3 linked regions of the Homo sapiens genome follow. The protein of the gene in region 3 interacts with the protein of the main gene of each other region in a biochemical or structural test. Each region holds a gene or a part of one and is shown on either strand. Other genes may lie near its edges.

Region 1 (7,000 bases), on a different chromosome or scaffold from region 3:
ATTAGGACCCAAAATACTCAGGGAATTTCAGTGAATTCCAGTTTTAAAAGTTCTGCTCTCCATCACTATGAGGAGTCAAACATTTGGCTCAAGGAAAAACTGAGGCTGCCTGACTCAGAAGCACCTACATGGGAAAAAGTACAAACAAAAAAAATGCCAGAAGGCAGTGCTTGCCAGAATGGCCTAAAGAAAACATACCCCCCTCCTCCAGGAAGTAGAAGAAAGAGGACAGTGGAGGCAAGATCTTACCAAGCTTGGTTCTTCAGTTTCCTCAGTTCTTTTGTTGCCCATGTAGCAAGGGTTTTTGCTTTGTTAGTCTTCGATCTCCGCCCTTCAGTTAACAATTCATGGATCATTGGCCTAGCTTCTACTAATTTCAGTACATCCTTCCCAAATGCTGTACATAAGTCCCTGTGCAAAACAAACACAGCTGAGAATGAGCTCCTAGCCCCATACCAGTATAATGTTTTGAGCCTTCCAAACCAGTGCTATGGGTTTCTTAGCAAATTTCAAAGATAAATAAAACCCTCAGTAGAGGTCACTAGACAGAGGCAATTGTTGACCAACATCAGAGTTTAATGGGGTGTAATACAGACACCTTGAGGGTCTGGAATAAACTATCATGTGAACACTCAAAACAGGACATGAAGCGTTCTGCAAAGAAATCTCTGTGCCAAAAAAGTGAACTGTTGCCATCCGCGATACTCTCAAAACTCCTTACTCCATGTTTTCTCATTTTCTGTGAGAAGTTCTATTCAGCTCTTAGAAGCAGGGTATAACTTACCCTATTAGTCCAGCAGCACAAGCTACTACTCCATCTGTGTGATCCTCATCTCCAGCAATGTGGTCAATGAAAGACAGAATAAATTCTACTCTGGGTTGTACCAGCATCACATCCGCTATAAAAGAGAGAGAAGGTATTGGTCGGGTGCGGTGGCTCATGCCTGTAAACCCAGCACTTTAGGAGGCCCAGGCGGGTGGATCACAAGGTCAGAAGATCGAGACCATCCTGGCTAACTCGGTGAAACCCCGTCTCTACTAAAAATACAAAAAAATTAGCCGGGCGTGGTGGCGGGCGCCTGTAGTCCCAGCTACTCAGGAGGCTGAGGTAGGAAAATGGCGTGAACCCAGGAGGCGGAGCTTGCAGTGAGCCGAGATTGCGCCACTGCGCTCCAGCCTAGGCGACAGAGCAAGATTCCATCTCAAAAAAAAAAGAAAAAAAAAAGAGAGAGAAGGTCTGATGCAGCTGTCCCTCATATGGCAGGACTACATCCTTTTTCAAAATTTCCAACTATTATACCCCTATCATACAAGGTCCAAGCTGGATAACTAGATGCATATAGTTATATCAAATTATTCTTCCTTTGATTAATGTGTCGTTCCTCAAGTCGACAGAAGAGACAAATATTCCTCTTCCTATAGGCAAATATAGAAGAAACAAATTTAACTTTTTCCTGAGCTAATGATACCAAGGGGGGTGAAGTAAAAAATTTCCCCAATCAGCAACAAGAACACGTAACGGGAATTATGACTCCCCAGTCCTCCAATTTAGCTTGTGGGGATGGGAAAGGGGTAGGGGACCTGCCACTCATGGTTGATACAGGAAGCATTTATGTTGGGTTTCTTCCCCCCAACATTTTTGCTGAATCCCATCCCTTGTAATACTCAAGAAATATGAGAAAAAGAAGCAGAGGGCTGGGTGCAGTGGCTCACGCCTGAAATCCCATCACTTTGGGAGCCCAAGGTGGGAGATTGCCTGAGCTCAGGAGTTCGAGAGCAGCCTGCAAAACATGGTGAAATCCCATCTCTACTAAAATACAAAAAAAAAAAAAATAGCTGGGCATGGTGGTGTGTGCCTGTAGTCCCAGCTACTCAGGAAGCTGAGGCATAAGAATCACTTGAACCCAGGAAGTGAAGACTGCAGTGAGCTGTGATCGCTCCACTGCACTCCAGCTTGGGTGAGAGTGAGACTGTCTCCAAAAAATAAAAATAAAATAAAATAAATTTAAAAGGCTGGGCACAGTGGCTCAAGCCTGTAATCCCAGCACTTTGGGAGACCAAGGCGGGTGGATCAATTGAGATCAGGAGTTCAAGACCAGCCTGACCAACAAGGTGAAAGCTTGCCTCTACTAAAAATATAAAAATTAGCCAGGCATAGTGGCAGATGTGTATAGTTCCAGCTACTCAGGAGGCTGAGGCAGGAGAACTGCTTGAACCTGGGAGGTGGAGGTTGCAGTGAGCCGAGATTGCACGACTGCACTCCAGCCTGGGCAACAGAGTGAGACTCCGTCTCAAAACAAAAAAAAGAAAGAAGAAGCAGAGCAAAAACAGTAGTCTACAGTTTTCCCCAAGCCACTCTCTTCATTAGGGCACTGCTCCCCCTTCTCCCAGCCTTTTAAGCAACAGGCACTAGGTTCACAAGCGAGCTACAGAATGACAGACATAGCCCACTTGGCTAAGTGCACATTGGCGAGCGGACGAAGGGAACTGGGTTGTATACTCAACGGTGTACGTTCTCCTGATCCCCCTTTAATCCCTGGACGATTCCAGTATAGGCTTCCAAGCAGCTTTCCCTTAGCTCATTCAGATAATCCACCATGTCATAGTCTGACTGTAAGACACAAAGAACAGAACCTACATCACACTGATCACTTTTAGCTGCATGTTTGTCAATAGTCCCTCCAATTAGAGCTAGACTTAAAGAACAGCCAAGATAGCTTTAAGCTTACCTTGTCCACCTGGGCTTGGGAGGCCTGCTGAAGAGTATTCAATACAACCTCTAAGTATTTTTTAAACTCTCCTCCAATAGCAAGGGCAATATCACCAAACACTGACAGAATCTGCGGCTTCACAGACCTGTGGACGTTCTCATTCTGACAAGGAACAAAAGGAAAAGTGAATTAAGTCAAAACTTGTTTGGTCCAAAGATTCATGAAAATTTCATTTCTAACAAGCAACTATTGATTTTAAATATTTGGATGGTCCTTTATAGCTTACAAAACCTTTCCCATTTGCACCTCACACCAACTCTAAGAAGCTAGCCCAGGTATTGGTATTCCCACTTTACACATGAGGAGACTGACTTAAGAATCAAGTGACTTGTCTGAGAACACACATGTACAATAATTAATGATGGCTATCTCTGGAGAGAGGTATAATATACAAATGGTCCCCTGCTCATGATGGTTTGATGATTTCTCCACTTTACAATGTGTTTATTGGGACCTAACTCCATCATAAGTCAAGGAACAACTGTATTTACTTTTCCTTTGCATTTTACTGTTTTGTTTTAAAAATCTCTAATAGAGCACACATTCCTTTAACTTTACAATCTTTCTTCAGAGTCATCTGTGAAATGAACAACTCCCCTCTTTATAAGCCCAAAGCCAATGTTCTAGAAACTTACAGCTCCCTGTCACTGATTTTTTTTTTTTTTTTTTTTTTTTGAGACGGAGTTTGGCTCTTCTTGCCCAGGCTGGAGTGCAATGGCGTGATCTTGGCTCACTGCAACGTCCACCTCCCGGGTACAAGCGATTATCCTGCCTCAGCCTTCCGAGTAGCTGGGATTACAAGCGCCTGCCATCACGCCCGGCTAATTTTTTTTGTATCTACAGTACAGACGGGGTTTCACCATGTTGTCCAGGTTGGTCTCGAACTCCTGGCCTGCCTCGGCCTCCCAAAATGCTGGGATTACAGGCCACTGCGCCCAGCCTGGTCGATATTTAACTATCTTTCCAACTGTTGTTTTCTTCAAAGAAGACTGGTTAATTAGATTGTGTGTAGATACTCACCCCCAAATTTTCCAGAAGCAGCTGCATCACCTCGTCACAGAAAGGTATGATGTTGGATTGCAGGGCACGGCACAAGTCTCCCACTAAGCCCACAGCTGCCAAACAAACCTGCCAAGAATCAAGGAAATAATCTTCTAACAGAAAAGGCTGCCTGCTGGGGCAAGATATTATTTTTAACTAGCTGCTGAGCTTTTATCACTTGAACCTAGAGTTAAATCCCTCTGCCGAGATTAATTTTTCAACAACCAACATGGCAGGCAGGGAACAAAGACTATCCGAGAGAGATCACTGATAAAGTTAAAAAAAAAAAAAAAAAAAAAGCCTTGCTCTCCAGGGTGCTAATAGCTCAACTTTATAGCTGCTCCTGCATTAGTACTGTCTAAGCAAATAAACAGTCATCTTGTCCACCATTATCTGTTACATCTAATATCTTGTCCACCGTTATCTGGTACATCTAATATCCTGTTTTTCATGGACTACTTCCAGTTCAAACGTTCAGGCAATGAATAAAGTAGCTTGCCTTTTAGGACAATGTATCAGGAAAAACTACTTAAGCTATAAGAACCTGGTTTTGCGTGCACTACAGTGACTGTCAGATATAAATGGGAACATACTATTTTGAAAAGCACATCCTACCTGGTATTCAGCATAATTTTTTAATCCAATGCCCAGGAAGGGTTTAAAGGCCTCCATGTACTTGAGGAATTCACCACCCAACACTGTAATGAAATAAGCTATTAGCCAATGACAGCACCACGGGTTAACACAGAGGCAGGCAGAAATAACCCATCCTACCTCTCCCAAAATGTACTCGCTCCACTCAACAGGTTGGGTGAAATGTGCTTTAGTTACCGATTCCATCATGAAGACATTAAAGGCTTGCATAAGCCAAATTTATTACTGCTGGAAGGGCCCTAATTCATACGCCACAGAGACAATGCCCACTGTCCACAGAATAGGGCTTTACTCTGACTAATACAACCAAGTGGTATGACCCTCAAGGAATGTCAAGGTTAATTTTAAATGGGCTGAACCAGCAATACTGACTCTTGTCCACCTCCTCATCTGATAATAGCATGTCCTTTCTGCAAGCCAGCTTCAAAACAGGGTCCTTAGGCAATTCCATCAAGGGCTAAACAAGCCACAGCCAGGAAAAGCAGCACTGGGCTTCAGATCCAAATCAGCCACTCCAGGAGCCAAAATTAACTTCTTTGCCCTTTCAGAGGAGTGGTCACATGTTGACAGACCAGTTGGACATAGGCTGTTTATGCCAAAAATAGGTCTAGTCCTCAGGAGAGTGGTCCTCAGGTAAATGGCCTTAGCAATGTACTTACAGGCCACCCCTGAAAAGGCATATCAGATTCCTAAAGTGCTTCGTAATGCCCCTTCAAAGAGTCTTAAGTCAGATATGGCTTCCCCAAACCAATTTTGCAGTCAGACATGTAAAAATCAGAAAATCAATTCCTAGAACTCGCTCAATGTTTCATTTCATCCCATACCAGGCACCATGATGTGTCAATCTTAGTCCAAAGCACTACAAACCAAACCAGGTGATGACAAGTACCAGGAAAGAAAATAGAAACTTTTAGCAGGGCACAGTGGCTCATGCCTATAATCCCAGCTACTCAGAAGGCTGAGGCAGGAGAATTGCTTGAACCTGGGAGGTGGAGGCTGTGGTGAGCCAAGATGGTGCCACTGCACTCCATCCTGGGCAACAGAACAAGTCTCAAAAAAAAAACAAACAAAAAAAAAAAACAAAAAAAAAACAACACCTCTGCCAATCTCCGTTGCAAACTGGCTCCCCATTTAAATGGACTGACAAGGCAGTTATACAAATTTAAGTGGTGTGCACTTAAGTTCAATCTAACTTTGAAGTGACTCATGCCCCAGTAAAAGGACTATGCTTTCTATAGTCAAAAATTCTTTAATGCTCTGACAAGGAGGCCCAGGAGTTTGAGACCAGCCTGAGCAATATAGTGAGACCCTATCTTCACACACAAACAAAATTAAGCTGGGCCCAGTGGCTCACATCTATAATCCTAGCACTCTGGGAGGCTGAGGCAGGAGGATCACTTGACTCAGGAGTTCAAGACCAGTCTGGGCAACATGGCGAAACTCCATCTCTACCAAAAATATAAAAATTAGCTGGGCATGGTGGTGTGCATCTGTTAGTCCCAGCTACTGTGGGGGCACTGAAGTGGAAGGATCATGTGAGCCCACGATTTCAAGGCTGCAGTGCGCCAAGATCGTGCCACTGCACTCCAGCCTGGGTGACAATTATTTAAGGCCACTGAAATGCCTACATTCCAAAGACATTCCCTGACCAGACAGTATTTCTCACCGACCTTCCACCAGTGTGCTAACTGCCATCAGGGCATCCTCTTGTACTCCCCCAGACCCAGCTGTGCTTTGGAACATCCTTAACAGGGAGGCCATAACCACATCAGAGATCTGCAAAGCATCTTGATGTTGCACTTTCCGAAGAACATTCTGTGAAATGAGTAAGAGTTCAAGATCAGTTGATTCCAAATCTCCCAATCAGAACACTATACCTTTTCTTTTTAAAATCAATTAAGTCCCTTGATATTTTTTAATTTTGGGAATGCCAAATGTATTTTATACACAAAAACATTGACAGTACCAATCATCAGCAATACATTTTAACATTTCTCCTGTTTCTCAATTCAGAACAAACGTGAGCTGATCCTCCGTTGTGCAGAAGGTCATGTCCTCTCAATTTCATTTGTCTTACTGTCTGACAAATCCCTGCTGGTAGCCGCCATAGTCCAGTCTTACTGGAATGATAGTTAAATTACTTCAGCTTTAGAGAAGGCCCTATCACCTTAGAGCTCTTATTCATAAAACAAACAAAAAGCAACCCTTCCTATATCCTACCTATTTACAGATGACCTAGAAATAAACTTGATAAAATCAAACCAACCTGACTTCTCCCATCAAACATTCCTTCCTCACTCGTTTGTTTCAACTAATGTCACTGACATTAGGTCAAACAGCAAATGTTTCAAAAGATGACGGTACAAATTCAAGGCTTTATTTTTAGCCAAGTGAACTATAGCTGGGAACCAAATCTGACTGAGCTAGGCTTGAATAACCTAATGAAAAACCAAGAGTTTTTTGGTTTTCAAAATAAAAAAACCAAAACCATTCAAGCTGCCAACACAAATGAGCTATACATCTGGAAGGAACCA
Region 2 (7,000 bases), on a different chromosome or scaffold from region 3:
ACTCCAGCCTGGTGATAGAGTGTGACTCCATCTCAAAAAAAAGTAATAACTACTAATCCACTGATAGCATCTGTATGCCAGGCCCCAGGCCAAGCACTTTGTAAGTCACTTCAGTTTACTTCCTATAGCACCACTATGAGACGGCTATTACTAACCCCATCTTACAAATAAAGAATCTGTCTTAGAGGTAATGTTACTTGTCCACAGCCCCGCACAACCAAAACTAGGATGGAAACTAAGAACTGCCTGACTCCAAAGTCCTCCTAATCCCCAGGCTTTTCCCACATCCAGACAGGACAGGTGGAGAGGTAGGCCAAGCCAAGACGGCTTGGGGGCAGAATGGGAGAAGGAGCTCAAAAAGAAAATGGGAGAGAAAGTAGCTGGGAAGCTAAGAGTGCTGAGGAAAATTCCAGCTGGGGGTGGGACCACGCTACAAACTCGGGACTCTAAAGATTCTTACCTTCCTTGAAGACTCCATTGACAGAAAAACACAGCAATGTGCTCTGAAAGAGAAGCAGCATCAGGTACAATGTACACTTCTCAGAGCCTGAGTGCCCCCCCTTGCCTATTAAATGCCACCCCCACCCCAATTCTAGGCTTCTGTCAGGCGCAAGCAGGAGCTTACTGTCTGGGCGCTTATGTCTACCACGAAGGAATTGACGTCGTGCTGGGTTTTGGGCAACTCATTGAGGAAGGCAACAACGTTGAGACGCGTGTGCTTCAGCAGCCGGAACCGCAAGGCTGTGGGTAGAGGAGAAAGCTCAGTGGTGCTGCCACACACTCCTGAGTTCTGACTGATTCCTTCCCATGCCCTTTTCCCATATTTTGTTCGTATCACACACTTACTAGGGTCTTTAAGCTTCTTCACATTTCTGCTATCCTTGAAATACTCGGCTAAGCTGCTTCTGGGGGAATAAAAGGAATGGACGTGGTGTTCAGAGCAGTGCTGCCAGCAGGTGTGCCCTGTATCTGCTGGGAAACCCAGTGGTCCCGGGCAGATTCTGGGATGTGATACTAACCGGGCAGGGTTCTGAGGAATGAAAGGAATGCTCAGGGAACAGCAGGCCCCATCATGGTAGGCATCCAGGAGCCCTTGTCGGTCTCCAGAGTCGTAAATTGCATAGTACCTATGGGAAAAACAAAAAAGAAAGTATGGGCTCTGTGGTCTACAGCCATACAAGGACCCAGTAGCTCCCAAGAGTGAGTTGTGGCCGGGCATGGAAGCTCATGCCTGTAATCCCAGCACTTTGGGAGGCTGAGATGGGTGAATAGCTTGAGCCCAGGAGTTCAAGACCAGCCTGGGCAACATGGCGAAACCCTGTCTCTACTAAAAATACAAAAAAAATGGCTAGGTGCGGTGGCTCACGCCTCTAATCCCAACACTTTGGGAGGAAGAGGCAGGTGGATCATGAGGTCAGGAGTTGGAGACCAGCCTGGCCAACATAGTGAAATCCCATCTGTACGAAAAATACAAAAATTAGCCAGGTGCAGTGGCACACACCTGTAGTCCCAGCTACTGGGGAGGCTGAGGCAGGAGAATCACTTGAACCCTGGGAGGCAGAGGTTGCAGTGAGCCAAGATCACACCATTGCACTCCAGCCTGGGTGACACAGTGAGACACTGTCCAAAAAAAAAAAAAAAAACAAAACAAAAAACAAAACAAAAAGATTGATGTGTGCCTGGGTCTGCCCACCATTCCCCCTCAACCTCGGGGTGGGGAGGGGGGACCCTGGGATACTTACTGTTGCAGGAAGTGCAAGACCAGACTCTTCAAGTTTTCTGTTCCAAAATAGCTTCCCTGAAATCAAACAGGTATTAGGAACATGGAAGCAGTATTCTCTCCACACACAAGTTCTTACTCTGTCCATGCTTCCTACCTTGCAGGGCGGTAACGTCGTGGGGGCTTCAACATCAAAGGCAATTGGTGGGGGTAGCTCATGGCCATCCTGTGGAAAGGAAGTAAAAGTTGACAGTGTAGACTGGGCCCAGTGGCTCACACCTGTGATCCCAGAACTTTGGGAGGCCGAGGCAGGCAGATGGCTTGAGCTCAGGAGTTTGAGACCAGCCTGGCTGGACAACGTGGCAAAACCCATCTCTACCAAAAAAAATACAAAAATTAGCTGGGCATGGTGGTGCGTGCCTGGAGTCCTAGCTACTTGGGAGGCTGAAGTGGGAGGATCACTTGAGCCTGGCAGGCGAAGGTTGCAGTAAGCTACGATTGTGCCACTGCACTCCAGCCTGGATGACAGAGCCAGACCCTGTCTCAAAAAACAAAACAAACAAAAAAGAAAGTTGACAGTTTAAACCAGAGAGAAAAAGGCTGGGTGCATAAGTAGACTGAAGAACTAAGAGAGAAGGGTCAGAAGTCAAGTGTAAACGCATCATGAAAAGTATCCAGGGATCCAGGCTGGGCGCAGTGGCTCACACCTGTAATCCCAGCACACTGGGAGGCCAAGGTGGATGGATTAGTTGAGGTCAGGAGTTCAAGACCATCCTGGCCAACAAGATGAAACCCCCATCTCTACTAAAAATACACAAAGAAATTAGCCGGGCATTGTGGCACATGCCTGTAATCCCAGCTACTCAGGAGGCTGAGGCAGGAGAATCACTTGAACCCAGGAGGCAAACGGTGCAGTGAGTCAAGATTGCACCACTGCACTCTGGGTAACAGAGCAAGACTCCATCCAAAAAAAAAAAAAAAAAGGGCCTGGTGCGAGTGGCTCACGTCTGTAATCCCAGCACTTTGGGAGGCCGAGGTAGGTGGATCACCTGAGGTCAGGAATTCAAGGCCAGCCTGGCGAACATGGTGAAACCCTGTCTCTACTAAAAATACAAAAATTAGCCAGGTGTGGTAGCACATGCCTGTAATCCCAGCTACTTGGGCTCAGGAGGCTGAGGCAGGAGAATCGCTTGAACCTGGGAGGCAGAGGTTGCGGTGAGCTGAAATCATGCTGTTGCACTCCAGCCTGGGCGACGAGTGAAACTCCGTCTCAAATAAAAAAAAAAAAAAGAAAAAGAAAAAGAAAAAGAAACCTATCCAGGAATCCTTGTGAGTGAGAGATGCTGTGCTTGTTAGAATGAAAAAATTATGGACTTACCAGGCGTAGTAACTTGGGAAATCGTTCGCGAATGGCGCTGTCAAGAACGGGACAGAAGTGAGTGATGCTTCAGAGCCACCGTGCCTCCTGGGCTGCTCTAGGAGCAAATATACCAAACCCGAGGGACAGCCCATCCCATCCTGCTCATCCCTCCACTCCCTCCCAGCCTGTGCTCAGGGAAAAATGGCCCCCACTCCCCACCTGACCCGGGGCACCCAGACATGGACTGCCTTGAAGGCTGTCTCTTTTCTCTCTGCCTGACCCTGAGTGTCAAGGAGCAGTACTCCAAGCCCAGGCTTTAAGCCCAGGACCTCTTTCCCCTCCCTGCCCCCCTTACCTTCCACCTACTCACCTGTGCAGCCCCGGGAGGAGGGAATGGGGTGGGAGCCCAGGGGCTCCGCTGCCTCACCAGGTATCCATCAGTTCTGCCAGGTCTGGCTTTGGCCAAGACCCAAACACACCACAGGGATGGCACAGGATGTTGGGGCAGGGAGATGAGCAGGTGGGGCTCAGGAAGAGGAGAGGCAAAGGAATAAGAAAGGAAAAGGAGGAAAAAGAGAAAAAGGCAAGATGGGGCAGGGGCAAGGGAGAGATGGGGAGGTATAGGAGACAGACAGAAAAAGGAAAGAGAAAGCAAAGAAAAAGAGAAAGAACTACAAGGCAAAAAAGCATCTAGAAAAATGAGGGAGAAAAGGGAGAAAGACACCCTGACACAGCCCTTTCTTTCAGCTGCCCCATCCCTGTGGTCCAAGGTAGAAATGAGAAACAAATCCTTGCTGTGGTGAGTGGGCACTTGCTGTTGGCCAGGTCTCTGTCTGCTACCTGGGTCCCGATCTGAACTGGGCGTGGGAAGCAAAGCAGCCATGGGGGCAGGAGACCTCCCTCAGAAGGTGTGAGGGTTCAGGCCCCTGTAGGATTGTGGGGGTGAGGGTCCATGCCCCACCTCTGTTGCCCCCAAGTTCTCTCCTGATGGCCCCTCTGCGACTGTGCCTGTCTTAGGTTGTTCCTTCCCTGAGGAATCTTACCCGTCTCTGGCTAACCAGCCATCCACCGGGGCCAAACAGGGTGACGTGCAGTGTGTGAGTGAGGGAGAGGCAGCGCCCCCGAGGGGGTCAGTTCTCTGTCTCCTTGGTAGCCTATGCCCCCGTGGCCTCCACGCCCAGCACCTGCCTTGGGATTCCCTCGCCTGCTGGCGGGGCCCCAGCTCTGGTCACATCTTGGGGAACCCAGGTTTCTTCTTCAGGGAGAGCCCAGCTCATAGCACTGGGCAAGAGAGACAGATTGCATGCCACCAGCCCCTAGGAGGCCTCAACCTCAGCATGGACAGCAACAGCCCTGGGCAAGTGGATCCTGAGAAAAGGGTCCCTCTTGGCGCAAGGGCAAGAGGGGCCATCACAGTACAAAGGAGGGAAGGCCCATCTCAGTAGGAAGTCCCAGGTAGGGAGGGCTTCCTCAACCCATGGACACCAGGCTCTTGGCACAAGGCAACCCCATCTATAGGGTATGTACAAGATACCCTCTGGTTAGAGTAGAAAGGGGAGATGCCTTTCCTGGAACAACAGGGTAGGGAGATTCTAGAAAAGGTTGTGTTCAGGAAGAAAGAGAAAGGCCACAGACCCAGCAAACAGATAGTCAAGTCAGAAGAGAAGAGAGAACATCTCAGGACAAAGCTGGAAGACACAGACAGACCAAAGTGGGGAGCACGCGATCCTCTCAAAGGACAGGTGGTTCCAGCTCAGGGCTGCACATCTCCGCAGACGGGCCCTGGTCAGGATGCATTAGCTCAGCCTCCCAGGGGGTGAAGGTCCCCAGGAGGGGAGACACAGGCTACAACTGACCTGATGTAGGTGGACTGGTCTCGGAAGGTGTCACACAGGGAGTTTCCATCGAGCCAGAGCTCTTCTAGCTTCAGCCCCTTTATCTTGTCCAATTCCCGCTCAGACTTCAACTGCAAAGGGTGGAAGGAACAAAGGGAGGAGACCCTGGTGAAGACAGCCAGCTGGCTCCCCATACCCCCAGTCCCTACGCTTAGCTCTGAGATCTTTTCTAATCTTTTAAAATTTTTTCTTTTTTTTTTTTTTTTGGGACAGGGTCTCACTCTGTCACCCAAGTTCAGTGCCGTGGCATGATCATAGTTCACTGCAGCCTCAAACTCCTGGACTCAAGAGATCCTCCCACCTCAGACTCCTGGGTAGCTAGGACTACAGGCATGTGACATCATGCTCGACTAATTTATTTTTTAAATTAAAAAAATTTTTTTGAGACAGGTTGCTCAGGCTAGAATGCAACGGCACAATCATAACTCACTGCAGCCTTGAACTCCTGAGCTCAAGCAATCCTCCCACCTCAGCCCCCTGGGGCAGCTTGGACTAGAGGCGTGCAAACTCCTAGCCTTAAGTGATCCTCCTGCCTTGGCCTCCCAAAGTGTTAGGATTAGAGTTGCAAACCAGCACATCTGGCCTGAGTTCTCTCTCTTGCCTCTTGCCATCACTGGACAAACTCTCTACACCCTCTACCCACCCCTTCAAAAATATAGCCGAGCTATCAATTCTCACTTCATTTCCAGAAAGGTTTAGGATCTTCAGGTTGGGTGCCTTCTGAACAATGCTAGACATGTCATCCAGCCTGTACAGCCTGTTGTTGCTCAAGTTCAAGGACAATAGCTGTGAGGAGAGAAGAGTTTAGAGGAGGCACCACCAGCAAGTGGATCAGAGACGAATCTGCCCTCCAGCCACTTCCTATCTAACACACCCTGCTTCCTCATGCCTAATACTGGGCCAAAGGCCTTACCTCAGGGATGTTCTCTTCAATGATCCTCAGGGTAGCTGCCATACAGCTTCTGCGATTCAGGACAACGTCAATGTTCTGGGCCACCAAATCTTCAGGAAGCAGAAGGGAAGGAAAGGGAAGACTGAGAGGGTTTGCCCATGCCAGCATTAGCAGTAAAACATCCTCAAACTTTCCCTCCCTGACAGATCCCACCTTATCACCACCTATCTGAGAACTACTGCTGTCAACCATACCTGGGTCTGAACGGAGGCCTTTGAGGTCAAGGGCTTGTTGGGAGCCATCGTATCGTTTGCTCATGATCAGCTAGAGGAAAAAGAAGGGTTTAGTGGTCACTGGGTTTGTGTGTGGGGGGTGGGGGTGTGAGAAGTAGTAAGACTGGGTTGGAAACATCTAATTTGAGCCTGCCTCACCTTTAGCTGTTCTACTTGTTCTGGCTTCAGTTCATTCAGTATAGTGTGGGGTGGAGCAGAAGAGTTGATGATGATAGATATCTGGAGGGAAGACACAGAGGGCACAGAAAACTCTAGGGAAGCCTAAGCCGCAAGAACAAGACCCAGTCCCTGCTCTGAGCACCAACCTCCACCTCCAGCCAAGCCAGGCCCTTTAAACACACCCTTCGGTTCTCCCGATCCAAAATCTTATAGTTGACAGCCTTCAATGCAGAGGCAGTACTGGCGTCTTCAACGAAGAACTGGGCCCGTGTATTCTCATAGTGAAACTACAAGAGGAAACAGGAGCATTACACTGGGAGTCCAGAGCCCTTGGGGAGGGGCATTACGCTGGGAGTCCAGCTTGCCCCTTCACCATCCCTGGTGCCTGGCCAGCCAGCCACTCAGGCCTTGTCTTACCTCAATAGGGGTGAAGGGCACACTGCACTTGCTCTGAATCATGCTCAGGAGCCATGCCTTGTCATACTTTCTGCCATAAGGAATCTAGAAATGAGAGAAAGAGAAAAGAAGGGAATGATAAGTAAGGCTGAATAGCAGACCCAATACAATGCCTTTTATACCTTCTACCAAACTTTTAAAGACTATCTAAAGAAAGGACCAGTACTAGGTTTTCTACTTGAGATACACATAGATTCTTTAACTCCTTTCTGTCTACTTACACTT
Region 3 (7,890 bases):
TTGCAGTGAGCCGAGATCACACCACTGCACTCCAGCCTGGGCAACAAGAGTGAAACTCGGTCTCAAAAAAACAAACTAACTCATTTTGTGAATAGGTAGTATGTTCACATTGTTGTAGCTCAAAAGGTACAAAAGGGAATAGTGTGGCCTGTCTTCCCTGAGTCCCACAGCCTCCCAGCCCTGCTCCCTGGAGACAGGCTGCTGTTGCACATCTTTGCAGAGACTTGCTGTGCGTTTAAACAAAAGCGTGGTTGGCACTATCCCCACCTGCACACAAAAGGCCGCCTGCTACATGCACTGTTCTCTACTGTTCTTTATGTATCTTAGAAATCGTTTTAAGCAGGCTTATTCTCCTCACCCGGGTAGATGAGGAAACCGAGGCCCTCAGAGGGGGCGACTTGCCCAGGGTACCAAAATCCTGCCTCTGCCACTTGCTACACAGGATGGCCTCAAGGCAGTAGCTAAATGATTTGTGGATTCACTGATTTTCAACCTTCTCTCCTGCTTTCCCCTGAAGTCACCTGACGGCTAATTAGCAGCTACTTTCTCCTTCCCACTCCCCAGGCCCAGAAGCTACCAAAGGAGCTCTGGTCGCAGGACCAACAGCAATTTTCCCCACAGGAAAAACGAATCAGCTAAGACAACCATGGAAAAGTTAGGAAACAGCCAGAGAGAGATTTTAAGGAAGATTCTAGAACCACCGCTTGCTCTTAATATAAAAGGACTGGAAGAGATTTGAGGAATACTCTGGTGCCAAGGCTTCTTCCTTTTTGGCCAATAACTTTTATTTCTTACTCTTGTATTGAAAGTTTTTTCCCCTCTACCTACTGCATTAAAAAAAAATTTTTTTTTTTCTAAGACAAGGTCTCACTCTGTCTCCCAGGCTGGAGTGCAGTGGTGCAATCACGCTCATAGCCTCAACCTCCCGGGCTCCAGTGGGCCTCCCACCTCAGCCTCCCTAATAGCTGGGATTACACATGTGTGCCACCACACCAGCTAATTTTTTTTTTTTGAGACGGAGTCTCACTCTGTCATCAGGCTGGAGTGCAGTGGCGTGATCTCAGCTCATCGCAACCTCTGCCTCCCGGGTTCAAGCTATTCTCCTGCCTCAGCCTCCCAAGTAGCTGGGACTACAGGCGCGTGCCACCACACCCAGCTAACTTTTGTATTTTTAGTAGAGACGGGGTTTCGCCATGTTGGCCAGGATGGTATGAATCTCTCGACCTTGAGATCCGCCCACCTCGGTCTCCCAAGGTGCTGGGATTACAGGCGTGAGCCACCATGCCCGGCCTAGGAGTTTCTTTTTAGCGTGATGAAAATGTTCTAAAATTGACTGTGGTGATGGCTGCACAACTCTGTCAACGTACTAAAGCCACTAAGTTGGACACTGATAAATGGATATGGATTATACAGTATCTCAATAAAGCCACTCAACCAACCAACCGACCAACCAACCAACCAGGGGGTGCTGGGAAGGGGTTGAGAGGCCTCCATGAGGCTGTGGAGGCGGATAGGCGTCAGGCTCAGAGCTGACTTTACCCCGAGGGCAACGGCTCGGGCAGAGTTTCTAAGGGCAGGCCCATGCCTTCCTTGGGGTGGCCGGTAATGCTGGTTGAGAACAGGCTGGGGAAGAGCCTAGAGCTGAAACGCTCTGGTTGGCGGTGCAGGCACAGGACATCAAGGCCTGGAGAGGGACTGAGGCATCAGGGCTGAGGGACTCTGAGAGCAGCGGACAGGCGTGTGTGGCGGGGGAGGAACGGCGCACACCTGTGCCCCATCCGCAGCCCCTCTTCTTGTCAACATCAGCTTCCCCGGGGAGAGGCAGTGATGTTGGTGGGGGAAGGAGGGAAGGGCCCAGGCCGGGCTGTGGTGGAGACGGTTGCTATGGAGGTTTCTCTGGGAACCAGGTGAAGGCAGCCAGAAGATGGGGGCAGGGTGGCTTTCATTATGAGAACTGGAAGCAAACACAGCCCCTTCCTGCCTCGGCGGACATCTCCACACCCACATTTCATGGCATTTCTCACGCGCTGGGCTGTTTCCAGGGCTTCACCTGTTCTCACTCACTTAACTTTCCCCCAGCAATGTGACGAAGCGAAACTATCATGGCTCCCATTTATAAATGAGCAAACTGAGAAAGGGGAGAGGACTTCAGTCACCTGCGTAAAGTCCCACAACCAGTAAGGGCTGGCCCAGGTGTCTGGCCCCACAGCTGAGCTCCTAACCGCACCGAGCCTCTCCAAAACATGGTCTTTTTTTGCTCCCCACTGCCACCACCATCACCGTCCCCTGCCTCATCCAGTCCCCCTTCCCATTCTCCAGAGACTTCCTGGGCCATCTCCATGACCTTCCAGACCAGCCTGGGCTTCACTCTCAAATCCAATTCAGGATGATCCGCCCGCCCCAGCTGCAGACGATGGCCTGAGACGCCTGCAGGGAAGAGAGGGGCGTCCGCTGCTCGCCAACCCCCATACGTTCCTGCTCTGTGGTAGGTCAGGAAGAAGAGGGCAAAGGAGTCTGCATCAAACTGGGCTAAGGCCTGGCGCTCTGATGGCCGCTGACCTCAAAACTCTCCATGGGGGGTACCCCTCTGCCCATTGAGGGGGCACCTAGGGAGCCTAGGGGTCCCGTGAGGCCCTCCCACCATGGTTCCCCGCCTCTGCCTCTCCCCGCAGCTCCGACCATGACCATCCATCCTATGAGTGCTGGCTGGGCTCAAGCCCGGGTACTTTCCTCCGTGCCCAAGCAACCCTGTAGGAACCACATATCCTGGGCCAGACGAATGCAGGAGCTGCCTCCTCTGGACACAGCGGTGGCTCTCACCTCCCTTCCATCTTGGCAGGATGAGTGCATTTGCTGCGAGAAAGCAGCCCCGACGGCAGGGCCCTAGGGCCCCAGGCCAGGCCACCACGACCACGAGGGACCAAGACAACAAGCCCACTCCTGAATCACGCCTCAACACAGACAACATGATGTCCAAACCACAGAAACGACCAAACACCCCTCCTGACTCAGAGCTGCTGGCTGTTTCTCAACTAACCCCGGCGGCACTAGCTCCCTTTGCTTCTCAGGCTCTAGGTCAAATAGATGCGAGTCATGGGCTTGCCCCTGACACAGCCCAACTCCTCAAGTTAGCCCAAACGCCTCCTTATTGAGGTGCCCTGCGAGTCCCTGTGGGGGACAGTCTTCCTGCCGCAATGAGCAATGTGCTCCTGGTGGCCTCTGGCTGGGGGCATGGGGATTAGGAAGAGAGTAATAAGACACCAGCCCCACTTCCAGCAGGCATCCTGAACCTCAGGAAGGATTCTTTAGGCCTCCTCCTCTGCTCCCCAGAAACACTGTCCTCCCCTCCTTCACATGGGACCGGGCTGTGTCGGAATGAAGCCCTACTCCGTCTCACTGCTTGTAAAGTCCAGCACAGAGGGGACCAGCCTCAATCCTCGGAGACTCTTGGAATGAGGGCTGGGTTCCTTTTGCTCTCTGCTGTGGACAGAGAGGATGACAGCTGTGGGGAGGGGAAGTCACAGAGGGCCAGCAGCCTGAGTCCTGTCCACACTGGTGGTTTGCTGGGGTTTTCCAGGTTTTTCTGAATTACTTGCCTACCTTTAAAACTTGGATCTCACAGAAAAAAAAAAAACTGGATTTCCAGCTTCTCCCGTGAAACCAGCAGCTTTGCACCACCAGCGCTGCCAGTGTTGCTGCGGCCCCGGTGCCTTTCAGGGGCCCAGGTGCTTCTGGGAGCCACCCCTCCCTCTGGGCCTGACACAGGGCCCAAGGTGGTCAGCAGTTCACCGGTCCAGGCCTCTTCCCATGTCAACCCCCTGCCCCTCCACACTGCCCCAAGGTAGTTCTATGATTGTGCCCATTTTACTGATGAGGTGACCACAGGTCGGGGGGTACAGTATCTTGTCCCAGACCACTAAGCGGTGAGTGATGGCATCCTGGGCTCTAGGACACTGGTGTCAGTTGTTATCAGTTTGCTGTGTCCCTTTTTTTTTGCATAAGAGCTGTGACTGCTTCTACTGAAGGGACAAGGGCAGGCACAAGGGAGGGAAGGGGCTCTGGAGGACTGTGGGCCACGTGGCAGCCTGTGCTGTCTCCCAGCCCCCGCGTCATCCTCTCCCCAACTGAGCTGGCCTTGGCCTACCTGCCCTTGTTTGCCAGGACTCCCACCTTCAACCCCGGCACCCCTGGCCTGCGTGACCCAGTTACCCTCCCTGGCTCCTCTCAGGGACCTCAGTATCACATTCGCTGGCCTCTGTGCTGAGCAACTCATTAGAAAATGTATTGATGCCTACGGAAATAGCAGCACAGGGCGGGGGGTTGTGGGGAACGTTTCTGGGAATGAGGAGGGCCCTGACTTTGCCCTCGAAGCGTTCGGGGGAGCAGTCACGTAGGCAGACATCTGCACACGGCGGATCTGAAAGCAGAAGCAGGCGTGGCGAGAACAGAGAGAATCACACACAGACCCGGGCTCTGGCAGCCGCCGGCTTCACTGATGCCATCTCCACAGCGCTCCCACACCAGGCCCCAGAGCAGGAACTACTGCTCACAGGGCATTTCCCTATGCCAGGCCCCACTCTAGGTATTTCACGCACATTTACACATTTAATCCTCAAAACCACCGTCTGCAATGGACCATCTCATCCCCATTTTACGGAGGGGAAACTGAGTCATAGAAAGAGGATGCCACTTGCTGAGGGTCACAGAAGTGGTGGAGTTGGGGTGTGAACCCAGCAGGCTGGCTCTAGGGCCCATGCTCTGACCCACGCTGCGGAAGGCAGCCGAGGCTCGGCAGATGAGGGCCCTGCCTGCACTCCAGTCTACAACTGAGTGCTGGGCTCAGGACCAGAACCCCGGTCTGTCTGATGCAAAACTCGGAGCCTTTTCCATCATGCCAGGAGGCCACCGTGATTGGGAAAGCAGTGAGGAGTTGCGGCAATAGCAGGGCGATGGCACGGTGCAGGTGCAGGCAGGAATCGATAGCGTCTGGCAACTGTGAGCAGCAGCAGGCCTGAGGTGAGGGTCAGGGCTTGGAGACCTCCCAGAGACTACACCATGGGCCTCGGGGCCCTGGAAGCTGTGCAGCATGGTGGAGGCTGAGGTCCCATCTAACTGGCACTGTGATTTTCACAACCCCCCTTACCTCTCGGGACCTCAGTCTTGACTCCTGCTAACAAGCCTCTGTGATCTGAGGCCCCTTCTTGGCACCGAGCCTCAGATTCTCAGGGTCCTGCACGGGTGGCTGATCTCCCTCCCTCTCCACACCACCCCTACTCTTGCTGTGCGGGGGTTCTCCCTTATCCAAGGCTCTGCTAACCGGGAGCGGTTGCCAGGTGTGCTGGGGTCCCCAGAGAATCCCCGAACTCCCCGTCCCCGTCAAACAGCCAGGGCTGATGCAACCTGCCTGCAACCACCGCCTCACTCCCCAAGCCAGGCCCCTCCGCACCGAAAAAGAGTCCCCAGTAGCCCCACCCTTGCTTCAAGCCCCAGCTCAGGAGTTGAAGGGGAGCTCGAGGCTGGGGGAGGCCAGGACATGAGTCCTGAAGGGGCCACAGGCCTGGGTCAGGAATGTGCACACGAGGGGACTCAGGGTTCGAAGATCTGGGGAGAAGGGTCGCAGGCAACCACTGATGACCGGCTATGAACTAGAACAGGCTGGGAGGGGCTGGAGAGCTAAGGGTGCCAACTGGCACCCACTCACCCTGAGTCCAGCTGCTAAGTCTGGCTGGGCTGAAGTGGGTGGGACCCAATAGCTAGAGAGAAAAGGCGGCAAAACGGTGGGGAGGGGAAGCAGAGTCCCTGCCCAGACACCTCTGCAGCCAGCATAAACCGCACATAGCCAGCAATGCAATTCTCCTACTGACCAAGCTATTAAAAATTACCCACACCGGGCCAGGCGCGGTGGTTCACGCCTGTAATACCAGCACTTTGGGAGGCTGAGGCGGGTGGATCGCCTGAGTTCGGGAGTTCGAGACCAGCCTGACCAACATGGAGAAACCCCGTCTCTACTAAAAATACAAAATTAGCCATGTGTGGTGACACATGCCTGTAATCCTAGCTACTCGGGAGGCTGAGGCAGGAGAATCTCTTGAACCCAGGAGGCAGAGGTTGCGGTGAGCCGAGATGGCACCATTGCACTCCAGCCTGGGCAACAAGAGTGAAACTCCGTCTCAAAAAACCAAAAAAATTAAAAAACAAAACAAAACAAAAAACCCAGGCCGGGCACAGTGGCTCAGGCTTGTAATCCTAACACTTTGGGAGGGTGAGGCAGGAGGATCGTTTGAGCCCAGGAATCAGGAATTCAAGACCAGCCTGGGCAACATAGTAAGACCCTCCCCCCCATCTCTACTAAAAAAAGCCAAAAAAAAAAAAAAATAGCATCCTACCTGGCCATCCTCTCAATATCCCGCAATCCCAGTCTGAGACAAAACCAAATGGAAGCACATTCCATAAAATACCCAACCAGCATTTTTCCAAACTGTCAAGGTCATGAAGGACAAGGAAAGTCTAAAACCAGTCACAGGCCAGAGGAGGCTGCGGAGCCATGATGCCTAAATATAACGTGGCATCCTGAAGGCATCCGGAAGGAGCAGAAAGGGCATTAAGTAACAACTACCAAAATCAGCATCAAGTGTGGTCAGAATCAAGAATGGCATTTGGTCAATGGTAACATACTGATGTTGCCTTGGTTGTGACAAATGTGGCAAAGTAATGTAAAATGTTAATGGAAAAAACCAAGTGAGGGGCATACAGAAATTCTCCGTATTATCTTTGCAACTTTTCTGTTGAGTCAATCTACAATTATTCCAAAATAAAAAATTTTATTTAAAAAATAACCCCCTTGGGTACGGTGGCTCACACCTGTAATCCCAGCACTTTGGGAGGCTGAGGCAGGCAGATCACGAGGTCATGAGTTCGAGACCAGCCTGACCAACATGGTGAAACCCTGTATCTACTAAAAATATAAAAATTAGCCAGGCATGATGGTGCATGTCTGTAATCCCAGCTACTCTGGAGCCTGAAGCAGGAGAATGGCTTGAACCTGGGAGGCGGTGGTTGCAGTGAGCTGTGACGGTGCCACTGCACTCCAGCCTGGGCAACAGAGCGAGACTCTGTCTCAAAAAAAAAAAAAAAAAAAAAAGCTAGGTCTTGCTTAAGACTGGGTGTGGTGGCTCATGCCTGTAAATCCCAGCATTTTGGGAGGCCGAGGTGGGTGGATCACCTGAAGTCAGGAGTTCAAGACCAGCCTGGCCAACATGGCAAAACCCCGTCTCTACTAAAAATACAAAAATTAGCCAGGCGTGGTGGTGGGCGCCTGTAATCCCAGCTACTTGGAAGGCTGAGGCAGGAGAATTGCTTGAATCTGGGAAGTGGAGGTTGAAGTGAGCCAAGATCATGCCACTGCACTCCAGCCTGGGCGACACAGCAAGACTCTGTCTCAAAAAAACCAAACCAAACCAAACCAAACCCAGTCCCCATGTACAATCTAGAAGATCTTCGTAGGAAAAGATTCTACCGGCGGGGCGGGGGAGATAGGGCACGTCTGTGCGTCCTTACCACTGGCAGTCTGCCCAACAGTCTACCCTTAATTCCATCTGCTTTTGTTCAAAAATCTATACAGCAATGGAATGAGAACACATCCACCTTAATTACAGCAATAACAATAACCACTTTTATGCAGCACCTACTGTGTCCCAGGCGTTAGTCTAACTGCTCGACACGGATTAACTCATTTAATCCTTGTAACAGCCCTAAGAAGTAGGTACTTTTTTTTTTTTTTTTTTGAGACGAGGTCTCACTCTGTCACCCAGGCTGCAGTGTGGTGGCACAATCTCGGCTTACTGCAACCTCCGCCCCACCCCAGGGTTCAAGTGATCCTCCTGCCTTAGC

Evidence for each region. Proteins that work in one complex are often made in the same cells at the same time.
Region 1: the proteins of NUP62 (region 3) and KPNB1 form a complex in vitro, tested with the Homo sapiens proteins (2 studies listed by BioGRID).
Region 2: the proteins of NUP62 (region 3) and NXF1 form a complex in vitro, tested with the Homo sapiens proteins (3 studies listed by BioGRID and IntAct).

Annotation. Positions count from the first base shown.
Region 1 is NC_000017.11:47,673,919-47,680,918, reverse strand, and holds part of KPNB1 (importin subunit beta-1), read right to left. Parts: intron 6,282-7,000; coding exon 6,137-6,281; intron 4,511-6,136; coding exon 4,428-4,510; intron 3,900-4,427; coding exon 3,792-3,899; intron 2,874-3,791; coding exon 2,730-2,873; intron 2,612-2,729; coding exon 2,506-2,611; intron 900-2,505; coding exon 785-899; intron 412-784; coding exon 250-411; intron 1-249.
Region 2 is NC_000011.10:62,795,441-62,802,440, forward strand, and holds part of NXF1 (nuclear RNA export factor 1), read right to left. Parts: intron 6,821-7,000; coding exon 6,737-6,820; intron 6,607-6,736; coding exon 6,502-6,606; intron 6,380-6,501; coding exon 6,299-6,379; intron 6,192-6,298; coding exon 6,122-6,191; intron 5,978-6,121; coding exon 5,889-5,977; intron 5,762-5,888; coding exon 5,654-5,761; intron 5,047-5,653; coding exon 4,937-5,046; coding exon of another isoform or gene 4,882-4,936; exon of another isoform or gene 3,136-4,881; coding exon 3,099-3,135; intron 1,947-3,098; coding exon 1,878-1,946; intron 1,799-1,877; coding exon 1,743-1,798; intron 1,128-1,742; coding exon 1,020-1,127; intron 906-1,019; coding exon 847-905; intron 742-846; coding exon 626-741; intron 504-625; coding exon 461-503; intron 1-460.
Region 3 is NC_000019.10:49,919,090-49,926,979, forward strand, and holds part of NUP62 (nuclear pore glycoprotein p62), read right to left. Parts: intron 1-7,890. UniProt on the Homo sapiens protein: Essential component of the nuclear pore complex. The N-terminal is probably involved in nucleocytoplasmic transport.